Linked DNA regions of Homo sapiens: regions 2 and 3 are each linked to region 1. The links come from fine-mapping of genetic effects on gene expression. A gene starts in region 1. Each other region holds a variant in brackets. All regions are shown on one strand. Distances are from middle to middle. Region 1 holds the start of TMCO1 (transmembrane and coiled-coil domains 1). Region 2 has its middle 5.9 kb from the start of UCK2. Region 3 overlaps TMCO1 (transmembrane and coiled-coil domains 1).

The links. PIP is the estimated chance that this variant, and not a neighbour inherited with it, causes the effect.
Region 2: its variant is fine-mapped to the expression of TMCO1 in stomach (GTEx, PIP 0.99).
Region 3: its variant is fine-mapped to the expression of TMCO1 in fibroblasts (GTEx, PIP 0.91).

Annotation. Positions count from the first base shown.
Region 1 is chr1:165,765,926-165,771,237 of GRCh38, reverse strand. TMCO1 (transmembrane and coiled-coil domains 1) reads left to right here and starts at 2,370. Exons shown (of 7, transcript NM_019026.6): 1 at 2,370-2,556; 2 at 2,969-3,046. The coding sequence starts at 2,487. TMCO1-AS1 (TMCO1 antisense RNA 1) reads right to left here and starts at 2,309. Exons shown (of 3, transcript NR_125374.1): 1 at 1,863-2,309. RefSeq lists enhancers at 1,407-2,082, 2,083-2,759.
Region 2 is chr1:165,819,078-165,824,421 of GRCh38, reverse strand. It overlaps the pseudogene RPL26P12. Among named protein-coding and RNA genes, the nearest start is that of UCK2, 5.9 kb to the left of the region's middle. The variant A/T (reference allele first, on the strand shown) is at 2,244.
Region 3 is chr1:165,742,327-165,747,326 of GRCh38, reverse strand. It overlaps TMCO1 (transmembrane and coiled-coil domains 1), which reads left to right. Exons shown (of 7, transcript NM_019026.6): 6 at 4,016-4,160. Among named protein-coding and RNA genes, the nearest start is that of TMCO1, 24 kb to the left of the region's middle. The variant A/G (reference allele first, on the strand shown) is at 2,148.

The DNA of each region.
Region 1 (5,312 bases):
TCGTGATCCGCCCGCCTCAGCCTCCCAAAGTGCTGGGATTGCAGGCGTGAGCCACCGCGCCTGACTTCTAGCACTGTTCTTAAACAAGGGGCATAGTGTCATGACATCATTACCCTAGAAAAGGAAGTGTATCCTAGCAGTCCATGGTTGTAAACATTTACACAGGAATAACTTAACTGCTTATTAATATATTTCATATTTTCTCATTTTTTCATATTTTAACATCTCTGAATGGGATTCTTCTTACAATCAATGGTGTGTCATGGTTTAATTAGTTATTTTTTCCTCTTTAGTAGTAGATAAAATAATGATGCGTCTTACAATGAATAGCATGTTGAATTTGATGAATTGTGTGTGCCAAGCACTGCTTGAAATGCTTTATAATATACTTTTCCTCATCCAGTCTTCATAGCTGATGTTACCACCATTTTGAAGGCTCAAAGATGCTAAACAATAGGTTCTAGGACTGCTGTCAAGTAAGTGGCAGAGCAAGAATTTAAAATCAGGTCTGATTTCCAAGATCATGCTCTTATTGTTATCTCAGCACTTACCTTGGGTGATACAAAGGTGAATAAAAACCTATCCTTGTCTGAACTGCTCAAATAAAGGTCTAGCTCAAATATGATCTTTCTGAAACCTTTCCAACTCCCCAGGAAGAATACATCTTGTTTTCATCTGTACCCCCTCAACATTTTAAGAATACCTCTATAATACCTATAATCTTATTATATTATATAATCTCCCTGGGCCCTTAGAAGTCAGGAATATTCTCTTAACCATCCTTTTGACCCTACAGTGCCTACCACAGTTCTTGACATATAGTAGAAGCTCAATAATGTTTCTTAAAAAGGAGACAGGGTCTCTGTTGCTAAGTCTGGGAGACAAGAAATGCACATAAAGCTAAAAAAAAGTCAAAAGTAGTGTTTAGGAGAATTATATATTTAAGTGCAGTACAGTTTAAAAGAACCAATGAGGGCCGGCCACGGTGGCTCACGCCTGTATTCCCAGCACTTTGGGAGGCCGAAGTGGGTGGATCTGAGGTCAGGAGTTCAAGACCAGCCTGGCCAACATGGCAAAACCCCGTCTCTACTAAAAATACAAAAAATTAGCTGGGCGTGGGGACGGGCACCTGTAGTCCCAGCTACTTGGGAGGCTGAGGCAGGAGAATGGCTTGAACCCGGAGGCAGAGGTTGCAGTGAGCCGAGATTGTGCCATTGCACTCCACCTGGGCAACAAGAGTGAAACTCCATCTCAAACAAACAAAAAAACACCAATGATAGGAGGAAGTACAAGAGGATACAGCTCAGCCAGCTTCCAGGTTTTCACCCATACACACACACACCCCAGTGTGAAAAAGCTGAAACCGTCTACAATGGCTGAAACCACGCTGCTGAGACATTTTTGAATTTTAATTAGTTAGCAACACTTATAAATTAAGTTTCACATAAAACCCAGGATTTCTGGATTTTCCTGAGAAACGAAGACATCTCAGAAACTGGGTGCTCATTCTCCTAGAGAAATGGGTTGGATTTGGGTATCAAATTCTCCTTTCAGATGAACTTAATGCTCACTTATCCATCGTAGTAACTTCCACCATTTGTTTAGGCTCAGCTTGCATAAGATAATTTATTTTCTCTCGCCAGTCTAGGCATCTGGGTTTAAGACCCCTTCTCTAGATACATTACTCACTGCACTATCACACTATGAATTTTCAGGCATCCGTGCTTTGACTTCCACTTTGCCTAGAAAGTCCTTTGCTATCTCCAAAAGTACTCCTACTCCCCTAAGGCACTGCTTCAATTCCTTTCATTAGCTTCTTCTGACCACTCTCTCAACCGTGTCACGCAGCACTGTGGTAATACCTCTATTAAAACCCTTATCAGAGCGTATGCACAAGCTTCTCCTCTTCGCGCTGACGTTCGCTCCTTGAGGCCAGCGGCCCACAACTAACTCATTTCGCGGTTCCAGCTTCACGTCCATGCCCTGGCACCTACACCCAGTCGTTCAGTACCTTTGCGGAAGTCAGTCTTCTTACTTCACGGCAAACCCAAGCTAAACTAATATTACGACCACAGAAGTTGGGCTGAGGTAGAAGTCAAGACTATCCCAATAACTGGATTCTGGCCGAGAAAAAGGCGCGCGCCAGCACCCCAGTCAGTAAAATCTACCGGGCAAAGTTCGCCGCCGCCACTATCCTCCTCTGGCTCTGAAATAGTTCCAATTCTCGCGAGATTCGGCCTGACTACCAGCCCTTCAGCTCCAGTGAGTTGCGGGTTGGTTTCCTCTAGACTCTCGTGGCCACACCGTTCTCCGATACGAGCCTTTCCGGTGCTATGCCCCGGAAGCGGAAGTGCGATCTTCGGGCTGTCAGAGTTGGTCTGTTACTCGGTGGTGGCGGAGTCTACGGAAGCCGTTTTCGCTTCACTTTTCCTGGCTGTAGAGCGCTTTCCCCCTGGCGGGTGAGAGTGCAGAGACGAAGGTGCGAGATGAGCACTATGTTCGCGGACACTCTCCTCATCGTTTTTATCTCTGTGTGCACGGCTCTGCTCGCAGAGGGTGAGAGCGGGTATTTCTCAGACGTTTGATCAGTCCCCGGGAGGAAGGGCCCCGGGGTCCCCTGTGCCACCAGGGGAAAGATCGCGAGCCTTACTTGCTTGAGAGGCTCATCTACTCCACTTCAGGGAATCTCTGGGCAACTCGTGAACAGGAGCAGGAGGGGAGTATGGAGTCGATTGCCGAGTTTTCTTTGGTCTCAGGTAGATTTCACTTGGGTATTTGTGGAGACACCTTCACATCATGTTACTGTTGTTTTGGCTGAAGAGTCAGTTGTATTAGCCTTTGAAAAAAGTTAACTATGGGTAAATACAAAGCGAAAAGTTGGAATTCCTCCTTCTCCAACAGTAACCACTTTGTTTGTTGTGATCATTCCAGTCATTTCTCTATTAACATGTTGCTTTTAATGTTTTAGGCATAACCTGGGTCCTGGTTTACAGGACAGACAAGTACAAGAGACTGAAGGCAGAAGTGGAAAAACAGAGTAAAAAATGTGAGTATGGCAACACATTAGAAATAATTTCAACACGTCAAGCTCATTAAGTCCATGTTCACAATAAATATTTTAAGAGCACCAGCTGATACAAAGATGAACCTGACTTGAAGCCTATTTAGAAATAGAAGACTTTTATGCAAAATGTGTAATACCAACTAGAGGGAAGTGAGGGGCGTAGCAGATACATGTTATGTGCTGTGGTGGTTCTAAAGAAGAGGTTCAATCTGGCGCAGTGGCTTACTCCTGTTAATCCCAGCACTTTGGAAGGCTGAGGCAGGACTGAACTTAGGGGTTTGACACCAGCCTGGGCAACATAGGGAGACCTCGTCCCTACAGAAAAAATTAGCTGGGTATGGTGGTACACACCTATAGTCCCAGCTATTTGGGAGACTGAGGCATGAGGATCCCTTGAGCCCAGGAGATTGAGGCTACAGTGGGCCACGATGGTGTCACTACACTGCCTCCTGGGCAATAGTGAGACTTGTCTTTAAAAAAAAAAGAAGAAGAGGCTTCATTCAGTTGTGAGGAACCATGGTAGCCTTCATGATGCTGATGGCCTTGCAGTTCCTTGTGGATAGTTAGAATTTGGATAGAGAATGAAATGGGGAAAGGAAATTCCAGGTAAAGAAATAACATATGAGCAAAAATATGGAAATCTTAACATTTAAGGCATGTTTGGAGGATGATATGTCATTATGACTGGTGTCAAGGTAAGTGGTGTCTTCAGAGATAAGCCGAGTTTCAGTTGGGTTAGAAAGTTGAAGAGGTGTTTAAGGAAAAGATTAAAAACAAGAAGGGTTTGTTACCTTTGAAATAAAGCAGGAATTCCACAGGACTCAGCTAAAGGTACAGGGTGAATGGTTCCTTATAGGCCTGATTTAGTTTTCTCTCTTCTTTTTTTCCTTATAAGGATTAAATATAACTTTTGTTTCTTAGAATTCCTACAACTTTCTGTATTCTGTGACTTTTTCTTATATCTTCATAGGGGTTTGAAGTTTTTTTTCTTAAATTACCATATTTGATCTACACAGCAACCATTTGTGGTTACTCGTATAAATATTACCTCCATGTCATAGGAAAGAAAATTGAGCCTCAGGATGATAATGACAACTTACGTCACAGAGCAAACAAAGAATTAGAGACCAGACTCAGGCTTTTAAAATTACAGCTTACTGTTCCTTAATTTACTCAGTGTTGATTATGTACCTCAGCATATCTGGGCCAAACTCGTTATCTTTACCTTCACAAACGTGATATTCTTCCAGGATTTCCCTATCTTGGTGATGGGTACCTCCATGCTTCCAGTAGTGTAAGCCAGAAACCTTGATATGCTTTATTAATTTGGCTCCAGGACACCATACTTTCGGTTTTGCTGCTCTCCATCTTACTAGTCATCCTTTTTTTATTTTTTATTTATTTATTTATTTTTTGAGACAGGGTCTCACTCTGTCACCCCTCAGAGCTCATTGCAGCCTGGACCTCCCAGGCTTAAGCGATCCTCCTGCCTCAGACTTCTGAGTAGCTGGGACTACAGATGCACACCACCATGACTGGCTGATATTTTGGAGAGATGAGGTCTTGTTCTGTTGCCAGGGCTGATCTCAAACTCCTGGGCTCAAGCGATCCTCCCGGCTAGGCCTCCCAAAGTGCTGGGATTACAGGCATGAACCACAGTGCCCAGCCCTTACTGATCATTCTTCTGCAATTTACTTGATGGTTTCATTTCTTGACCTCCCGTTGTTGGGAGTGACACAAAATTTAGTTTTTTTCTCTACATTCACTTCCTTGGTGAACTTATCTTTTGGCTGTATTGGCCAGTGACTCCCAAATTTATGTCTGTGGCCCTCTCTTCTTAATACAAGATTCATATATCCACGCATCAATTTGTTATGTCAGCTAGAATGTTTGGTGGACAGCTCAGTCCCAACACGTCCCAAATTGAATACTTGTTCCTCATGTCTAAGCCTGTGTCATTTGTAGCCTTCTTTATCTTGGTCAATGGCATTTCTGTCCTTCCACTTGCTCAGGCCATAATTCTTGTGTAGTTATCTTTTACTCTTCTTACAACCCACATCTAGTCTGTCTGCAGATACTGTTGGGTTTCCTTTTTGAAGAAACACCCCAAACCAGTAAAGGTTCAGAAAGCTTCCGATATCCAGAATCTGACCACTTTTCATTAGCTCCAGTGTTAACCACTGTGGTCTAAGCACCATGATCTTTTGCATGGATTATTGCAGTAGTTTCCAACAAGTGTTCCTGTCTC
Region 2 (5,344 bases), 53 kb before region 1:
TGTCATCCTCTCTTGGGAGCTTGGTCACCAAATCCCATAGCTAGGGATGTTCAAATCACATTTGAGCCTACCATAACAATTACACTGCAGATTCTGAATTAAGTGGTTTTGAGCTGTCCTCCTTTTCCTCCCACTAAAAAAAAAAAAAAATCTAATTTTTTAACAAAATTCAGAGTTAGAACAGATTCAAGGAAATACATTTTCTTGGTATCTGTGATGATTTTTTTTTCTTTTACAGATTTCAGTCTGATCAAGTTCTGGCCTAGTTAACATTTGGGCACGAAGTCAGCATGAGTATGCAAGTGCAGCTGTAGCCAAAGAACAATAAGAGACATTGCTGTTGACAGTCCTTTGTCTGCCTGCCTTCTCCCCTTGAGTAGCCATAGTTCTGAACTAGACAAGGAACGTTACATTTTGCACCCAACTGAAATGTTCTTTCTCTAGGTGCTTCATGCACCATGATCAGTTCTCTATTTGTTTATCTCATTCCCCAGCCAGAAAAATAGATGTTATCACACTTCATCATGTATCCAAAGTATTATCGTTCTCTGTATTACCTTTCTAATTACTTTCCACCTTTTATCAATCAGCAGTTGCTTTGTCAGATCATAAGTACTGTTCTGAAAAGATGGCTGGATGACGTTAAAGCTCTCTGACCTTAATCAGTCACATCCAGCTCTGTGACCTTAATCAATTACATTCTCAGGTACTGTTAGGCAGCACAACATAGTGCAGTCTCAGACTGGCAGCAGCAGCATCTGGGAATGCAAATGCTTAAGCACCACCCCAGAACTAGTAAATCAGAAACTCTGTGTGTGGAGCTCCACAGTCTGTGTTTTATAAGGCTTCCAGGTGATTCTCATGCCCACCAAAGTTCGAGAACCACTGTTCTCGTGCAAAGAAGATGAATAAGCTCTAGTCAGAAAACAAAGATTTATAATCTTACTTTGTTACTAACTTTATAACCTTTGACAGGTTACATAATTTTTCTTTTCTTTTTTTTTTCTTTTTTTTTTTTTTTTTTGAGACAGTGTCTTACTCTGTTGCCCAGGCTATAGTGCAATGGTGCTATTTTGGCTCACTGCAACCTCTGCCTCCTGGGCTCAAGCAGTCCTCCTGCCTCAGCTCCCAAAGTAGCTGGGACTACAGGCGCCAGCCACCACGCCCGGCTAATTTTTGTACTTTTGGTAGAGGTGGGGTTTCACCATGTTGCCCGGGCTGGTCTCAAACTCCTGAGCTCAAGCTGTCTGCCCACCTCAGCTTCCCAAAGTGCTGGGATTATAGGCAAGAGCCATCACACCAAGCCAGCTTACATAATTTCTATAAACCTCAGTTTATTCAACTGCTAAATGATAACTCACTCACAGGATGGTTATGAAAGTAATGATACACATTAGTACACAGTAGTTGTTAAATAAATACTGTTTCCCCTTCCCCCCCCATTTCTGTCACAGCTCTCTGATTTATCACAGATATCCACCATTTAGGGGTCAGGAGTTCCAAAAGTAAGAATTCCTAATCCCCAAGGGCACTTTCTTTCTTTCTGTATTTTTTTTTTTTCATTTTGAAATAGGGTCTCACTCTGTTACCCAGACTGGAATGCAGTGGCATGATCATAGCTCACTTGCAACCTTGACCTCCCCAGGCCCAAGTGATCCTCCCACCTCAGCCTCCCAAGGAGCTGGGACTACAGGTGCACACCACCACGCCCGGCTAATTTTTGTATTTTTTGTAGAGACGGGGTTTTGCCATGTTGCCCAGGCTGGTCCCTAACTCCTGGGCTCAAGTGATCTTCCCGCCTTGGCCTCCAAGAGTGCTGGGATTACAGGGGCACTTTCAAATAAAAATTAAAAATTAATGTCCAGAATGGGCCCCGTCCGATGTAGATTTGTGGTTGCCTATGGCTAGGGAGGTTAGTGTGGGAAATGGAGAGAGACTGCTAATGGGTCCAGGATTTCTTTCGGGGTGAAGGAAATGTTTTAAAATTGTCGTGATGGTTGCACAACTTTGAATATACTAAAAGCCATTGAATTGTACAATTTAAATTGGTGAATTTCATGGTATGTGAATTATATCTTAATACAGCTGTTTTAAAAAAATTGGTGTCAACCAGAAGGCTAGAAGAAAGAGTTTTAGGAAATGGGAACAGAAATGGGCAAAAGCAAAGAGAAATGACTGAGATTTAAAAAGACGGCATCAGAGAACGTCATAACCTGTAAGACATTACACAAATGTAGGTTATT[A/T]ATTTTGTTGAATTTGACATACACCCTCTCTCAGCAAAGATAATAGTCATTCAAGGGTCCTTAAATTTTAGTTGGCCCAACTTCAGAAATCTCGTAAGAAGAAGCCTTCACAGAATTGAAAAAATTAATATACAGATTTCTGTATGTTATAGAGATTTTCTGATTTTTCTCTCCCTTCCCCATACCAGGACACTTTCTAATGTGATTCTTTGAAAATAGGCTGAGATAAAGTCAAGAGTTCTATTGTCTTGCCCAGCCAGCTACCAGCACCTGTTAAGAGCAGGCCCCAGAATCCGTGTTTTATTCACCATGTTCTAAGCTGTTTGGCTTCATCCTGTTTACCTAGACCCATATCTGATCCTTTACTTCTTTTCCTGTCACCAGTCTTAATCGTTGCTATCCCACTTTTATGCAATGACTTCTTTCATTTTCCCTAATTAGTTCTTAGGTTACTGTCTCTGCAGATAATCTACTACTACCCCTTCCCTCCTCCTGTGGCTGACGCTCTTTCCATCAGGTCATAATGGATGCATTATAGTTGGTGATATAGAGCTGGGATTAGGGTGAGACAAGGGATGTGCCTTGAGTGCAAAAAGTGAGGAGGCACTGACTCTTGGGTTGAGCAAACGCAAGTGCAGGGTGGGAAAGGAGCAGCTCCTTCATACCCTAGGCACCCACTTTGCCTCACCCTCGTCTCAGAGCTCTGGTGATTGTCAAGAGGAGAAGCAGAGGATGGTACTGCTGATGGCATCAATGTCAGAGAAGTAGTTACATTTAGTCTAGTGGCTTGTATTTGAACTGGTGGCCAAGGATGGCAGGTTTGACTTTCCTCAAGATGATGGGCTGAGGTGCCAAGTGATGTTGGAAGCCAAATGAGGTTAGATAGATTAGTTTTTGCTCAGTATTCATGGTATGTTACTAAAAGTTACTTTGGTGTCTTGAAGTGAACTCTCCCCAGGTCATTAGGAGAGAAGATTAGTTTGGTTTTCCTTCAGAATGAAATTATAGCTGTTCTTAGGCAAGGAGGCCTAAGGCTTCAAGTGATGAATGCTAGTGTTTCAGAAATATTTTTAGTCAGAGACGCTGAGAAACAAACAAAAGCAACAGACTCCCCAGGAAAACACTGTGTATGCACACACACAAATAGAATGTTGAGGATAACTCAAAAGGGTTCAGACAGCTCAAGAAACCCATTCATGAAGAACTCCAAAGATCCTTGATTAAGAAACCCTGGTGTAACTGGAAAGGCCTTGAACTGAAGAGAGAAAGTCAGTTAAGCAAGTTCTCCTTTCAGGGTGGTGGAGGAGACTGGTTTGATCCTTGGGTACCTCTCCTGAGAGAGTTTGCAAGATCTTCAGCTGGTTAGGTCATCAGAACTAGAAAAATAAGATTTAAAAATTATGTGTGTATCTGTATCTACATCTATGTATATATCTACATTATATATATACACATTATATATAATATACATACTATATATAGTATATATATAATATACATACTATATATAGAGTGTATATATATATATATAGTATATATAATATATACTTTTTTTGGCTGCTCTGTCACCCAGACTGAAGTGTAGTGGTGTGATCATAGCTTACGGTAACCTCAAACTCCTGGCCCCAAGCAATCCTCCTGCCTCAGACTATATATGTATACATACTATATATACTATAGTATATATAGTATATAGTATGTATAGTATGTATAGTATGTATAGTATATATAGTATGTATAGTATGTATAGTATGTATAGTATATACTATAGTATAGTATATATAGTATACTATATATATACTATACTATAGTATATATATAGTATATTTAGTATATATAGTATACTATATATACTATATATACTATATGTATACTATATAGTATACTATATATACTATGTATATTATATATAATGTAGATATGTATATAATGTAGAGATATATACACTATATATACTATATATAATATATAGCATATATATTATATATATTTTATATGTATTATATATATATTTTATATATATATACTTTTATTTTTGAGACAGGGTCTTGCTATGTCACTCAGGCAGGGGTGCAGTAGTGCAGTAGTGCAATGTCAGCTCACTGCAACCTCTGCCTCCTGGGCTCAAGCGATCCTCCCGTCTCAGTGTCGCAAGTGGCTGGGACTACATTTGAGTGCCGTCACACGGGGCTGATTTTTGTATTTTTTATAGAGACAGCGTTTTGCCATGTTGCCCAGCTGACTTCGAACCCCTAGACTCTAGCAATCTGTCCACCTCAGCCTCCCAGAGTGCAGAGATTACAGATGTTAGCCACTGTACCCAGCCTGTATCTTTTCTTTTTTGTTGTTTGTTTCAAGTTTTAATCAAAGCTTGTACATAAGATTACTTTATTTTTGCATCTTCTCAATTGTTTCTTCCTAGTATTTGCCCTTTTCCTTTCCTACTTGGCGAGATTTGGCTTTCCATTCAAGGATCTTTTTGCTGTCTTTGTCCAGTTTTAGCCTAGTGATAGCCACCTTTCTGGGGTGAATGCCTGTGTGGACAGTTGTGCCATTAGTCTTTTCCCGCTGCACCCATTCAATGTAGATGACATATTTCTTCCTGTAAACCTGGACTACTTTACCAATTTGCTGACCTTTATAGTGCCCTCGTACAACCTGAACTTCATCATCCTTTCGGATGGGCATGGATTGCACATTGTACTTCTGTCTCAGCTCTTTGGAAACAGGGGAAGACATAATCTTCCTGTGAATGTGGGAAGGTGCATTGAAATGCCTTTTGCTATTTTTGATTTGGTTGGAAGTCACAAAGGGATTGAACTTCATTTTGGCCGCTCTGTCACCCAGACTGAAGTGTAGTGGTGTGATCATAGCTCACGGTAACCTCAAACTCCTGGCCCCAAGCAATCCTCCTGCCTCAGACTCCTGAGTAGCTAGGACTACAGGCATGCACCACCATGCTTGGTAATTTTTTTTTTTTTTTTGTACAGACAGGGTTTCACTATGTTGCCCAGGCTGGTTTTGAACTCCTGGCCTCAAGTGATCCTCCCAAAGCTCTGGGATCACAGGTGTGAGCCACCATGCCTGGCCTATGTACTGTG
Region 3 (5,000 bases), 24 kb after region 1:
GTTTGCTACTACTGTCTATAAGTAGCTTATCAATTTTTTTTTTTTTTTTTTTTTTTTTTGAGACAGAGCCTCACACTGTTCTCTGTTGCCCAGGCTAGAGTGCAGTGGCACGATCTTGGCTCATTGCAGCCTCTACCTCCCGGGTTCAAGTGATTCTCCTGCCTCATCCTCCCGAGTAGGTGGGATTACAGGCAGGCATCACTACGCCTGGCTTATTTTTGTATTTTTAGTAGAGATGGGGTTTCACCATGTTGGCCAGGCTAGTCTTGAGCTCCTGACCTCAAGTGATCCACCTGCCTCAGCCTCCCAAAATGCTGGGATTACAGGCGTGAGCCACCATGCCCAGCAGGTTATCAATTTTTGTGATTTTATTTTCTAATTGGACATCTTCCTGAACTCTCCTAGCTTTTAATTTGATTCTCTAGTTTTCTAGATAGATAATCATATGATCAGACAAATAATATTGTCATCTTTTCCAAATTCTCTTTTCCCTCCATCCCTTCCTTTCTCTCCATCACTGTTCTCTAGTTCTATTGTGCAATGAATTAGAACAACCAGAAGAGGGTTAAATACTCAAAGGTAAAATACCAACGATACTGCAGTAAAGATGGGAACAAGATGAAGAGAATGCCCATATCACTGCTATGATATTTATGAAATTTTTAAAGAATGGAGGTTTTCAAAGCTATATGCAAGCATATGTGATATGTTATCCTTAATAGAGTTAATAATATAATAAGCACTTATCAAATATTTGGTGATTAAGTTATTAGACCTTGGACCAGTATTGAAATGCCAGATTATTTTTGCAGTTCATCAATATAAAATACTAGATGCTGTGTGTGTGTGTGTGTGTGTGTGTGTGTGTGTGTGATATAGGTCTTCCAAGCTATAGAAGTCAAAGAAGTCAAGTAGAGTATCTTCAAGGAGGAAAATTATATGAAAGCTTCATTATAATCAGGTTTCTTATAAAAGGATATGTTGGCAGGAAAGAAGGCTATTTTTTTTTTTTTTTTTTGAGATGGAGTCTAGCTCTGTCGCCCAGGCTGGAGTGCAGTGGCACAATCTCGGCTCACTACGACCTCCGCCTCCTGCATTCAAGCAATTCTTCTGCCTCAGCCTCCCAAGTAGCTGGGACTACAGGCATGCACCACCATGCCTGGCTAATTTTCTTATCATTGCCTACTACCTACTCTGTTTTGTATTGTTAGTACAGAGGGGGTTCCACCATATTGGCCAGGCTGGTCTCAAACTCCTGACCTCGTGATCCACCCGCCTCAGCCTCCCAAAGTGCTGGGATTACAGGCGTGAGCCACCGCTCCTGGCCTTCTTTTTTTGTTTTTATGTATATTATTTTCAGCAACTTTCTTATTCAGAACACTGGCAAACAATAGCTTTTTATTTGCTTGTTTTGTTTTCCCAAACTAGTGGAGGTTCGCATAATATATTTTACCAATATTAGTGCTGTATTCATGTTTTTGTTCTGGTCTTTGTACCCTGTACATTTAAAAAAAATATTGTGTCTTAGATTGTCAGCACCTAGAAGTTAAAGGCTGTACATCTATTTTTATAAACTGGCATATGAAATTAAAAGTCTAATACATGTTTTGATTATATTGGACAAAAGTTATTCAGTCTTTAACATAATTTCTCCAAGTTTAACTTTGATCATCTGTTTTTGAGACCAGATCTTGCTCTGTCACCCAGGCTGGAGTGCAGTGGTGTGATCACTATTCACTGCAGCCTCAACCTGCTGGGCTCAAGTGATCCCCCTACCTTAGCCTCCTGAGTAGCTGGGACTACAGACATGCACCATGACACGTGGCTAATTTTTTTTTTTTTTTTTTTTTTTGGTAGAGATAGGGTTTCGCCATGTTGCCCGGGCTGGTCTCGAACTCATGGCTTCAAGTGATCCTCCTGCCTCGGCCTCTCAAAGTGCTGGGATTATGAGACATGAGCCACCACGCCTGGCCAAGACTATAAGGGATACTAAAAGATTATGTAAGCCAAGAGTGGTGGCTCATTCCTATAATCCCAGCAATTTGGGAGGCTGAGGCAGGAGGATCACTTGAAGCCAGGAGTTTGAGACCAGCCTGAGCAACATAGGAAGACCACAGCTCTACAAAAAAAAAAAAAAAATTAGCCAG[A/G]CATGGTGCTATACCTCTGTAATCTCACCTTCCTGGGAGGCTGAGGCAGGAGGATTCTTTGAGCCCAGGAGGTCAAGGCTGCAGTGAGCCATGATTGCACCACTGCATTCCAGCCTGAATGACAGAGCGAGACCCTGTGTGAAGCAAACAAAAATAATATCCCTTACACTCTTAAAATTTGTTAACAGCTGGCAGATGCTTTAAGGAAAAAAATCTATGGTTAGACTAAGAAGGGAAGGACTTGAACTCCCAGACTGCCAGAAAAAGGACTAGATATAGCTACTTATTTAGTAGCTGTATCTACTTTTTGGCATCTCTTCCTGAATCATTTACATAAAGTTGAAATAACAGGATTTTAGAATTGAAATTTTTTTTTTTTTTTTTTTTTTGAGATGGAGTTTTGCTCTTGTTGCCCAGGATAGAATGCAATGGCATGATCTCGGCTCACCACAACCTCTGCCTCGCGGGTTCAAGTGATTCTCCTGCCTCAGCCTCCTGAGTAGCTGGGATTACAGGCATGCGCCACCATGCCCGGCTAATTTTGTATTTTTAGTAGACACGGGGTTTCTCCATGTTGGTCAGCTGGTCTCGAACTCCCAACCTCAGGTGATCCGCCTGCCTTGGCCTCCCAAAGTGCTGGAATTACAGGTGTGAGCCACCGTGCCCAGCCTGAAAGAGATCTTAAAAGTCATTTAACACATAACTTCTCTCCTAATACAGAAAGCTCATCACTAATGTCTCTAACAGATAATTTGTCATCCTTTATTTCCAACAATGAGGAGCTTAGTGGTTTCTGAGATAACTAGTACTTTTATTGAGTAGTTTTTAGAGTTTGAAAATAATTCGTTTTACTGGGCCAAAATATGCCTCCCTATATCTGTACTTGTGAGCAGTGATCCTGCCCTCTGGAGTCATAGAGTAAGTGCACTTAAAGAAATAATCCACCTATTGTAAATCATCTCTCTCTTTGCACCTTCCTTCTTCTCTTCCCAGTTTTTTTCTTTATTGTGCTAGACACCAATTTCTGTTCCTTATAACAAGCTTCTATTCCTGTAGGACTTTGAGAGGCTGAGGCAGGCGGATCATGAGGTCAAGAGATCGAGACCATCAAGGCCAACATCGTGAAACCCTGTCTCTACTAAAAATACAAAAATTAGCTGGGTGTGGTGGTGCACATCTGTAATCCCAGCTACTCGGGAGGCTGAGGCAGGAGAATCGCTTGAAGCAGGAGGTGGAGGTTGCAGTGAGCTGAGACGGCGACACTGCACTCTGGCCTGAGTGACAGAGCGAGACTCCATCTCAAAAAAAAAAAAAAGGAATTATCAGAAGATTTTTCAGATTTGTTGCTGGTTTAAAGTCTCATGCATGTTCAACTTCATATAATTAAATAACTTATATATAAAGATATAAAAGATTTTATATCGCTTGAACCCGGGAGGCGAAGGTTGCAATGAGCCGAGATTGTGCCACTGCACTCCAGCCTGACCGACACGGCAAGACTCCGTCTCAAAAAAAATAAATATTAAACATTTCTCATTTTTAATTTCTAATACAGTAAATATTAATAACTATAAGCTACAGAAACACAAAGTTTTTAGGGTCCTAAATAATTTGTCAGTATATAAAGGGGTCTTGATACCAAAAGAATTGAGAATGACTAATTTAGGAAAAGATTGATGAGAATAATCTAGGCTCTTCTTTACATCACCGTACATCAGGTTCATGTGTATTTTTAGCATGTCACCCTCTCTTTGTTTTTCAGAGATCAGAGACTTAAAGCTCTATTTCTGTCCCAGATTCTTCTTTGGAAGTAAGAAAGTTGTCAGTCTTCCAAAGATAACAATTCTTTTTTTTTTTTTTTCTTTTAGATTTGATGGTAGAGTGGTGGCAAAGCTTCCTTTTACCCCTCTTTCTTACATCCAAGGACTGTCTCATCGAAATCTGCTGGGAGATGACACCACAGACTGTTCCTTCATTTTCCTGTATATTCTCTGTACTATGTCGATTCGACAGGTGAGTGATCACATCTACCATTTAATATGTATATTTTTCCTTGCTGTCATACCAATTAGCTTTTACTTTTATAATACTAGAAATGTTTACCCATTGTTCCTGAGTTCTTTCAGTTGCTCATTTTAGAATTTCAGTGTATCTTCCAAAAGCCATTTTAAATGGCTGTAGGTCTAGATGACTGATCCTTAGGGATGAGAAGTAGTGATAAAACCAAACATGGATTCCACATCCCATTCTTAGAGCTCTCAGGCTCCTTCTTTATTACAACTGCCTAAAGCTGCAAAAGTAGAGAGTGGGTTTGGTCTTCCCAGTACCATTTCTTCATTATATACCAGCACCATTTAGCGGCTCAGGAGCACAAGTAAGTTTAACAATGTGGTAATTTTAGGTTATTCACAGTTGAGATAAAGTTTAGGTTATAGAATTTACATTTGGCCAACTTGGTGATTTGACATTCGTAGTGAAAAAGAGTGAGAACTAAGGAGTAAAAGGGTTATGAAGGCCCGGAAGAGAGCTATAACATTCGATTAGTGGGGAAAGGTTCAGGCAGAAAGGTTTAGAGAATGAAGTGGCTTTCGAGATGGGCCTATGGAAGTGAAAAGGTGGCCAGGTGCCGTGGCTCATGCCTGTAATTCCAGCAATTTGGTAGGCTGAGGCGTGAGAATCACCTGAGCTCGGGAATTTGAGACCAGCCTAGGCAACATTGTGAGATTCCATCTCTACAAAAAATTTAAAAATTAGCTGGGTATGGTGGCATGTGCCTGTAGTCCCAGCTACCCTAGAGGCCGAGGTCGGAAGGTCACAAAAGCCTGGGAATTTGAGCTTGAAGTGAGACTTGAT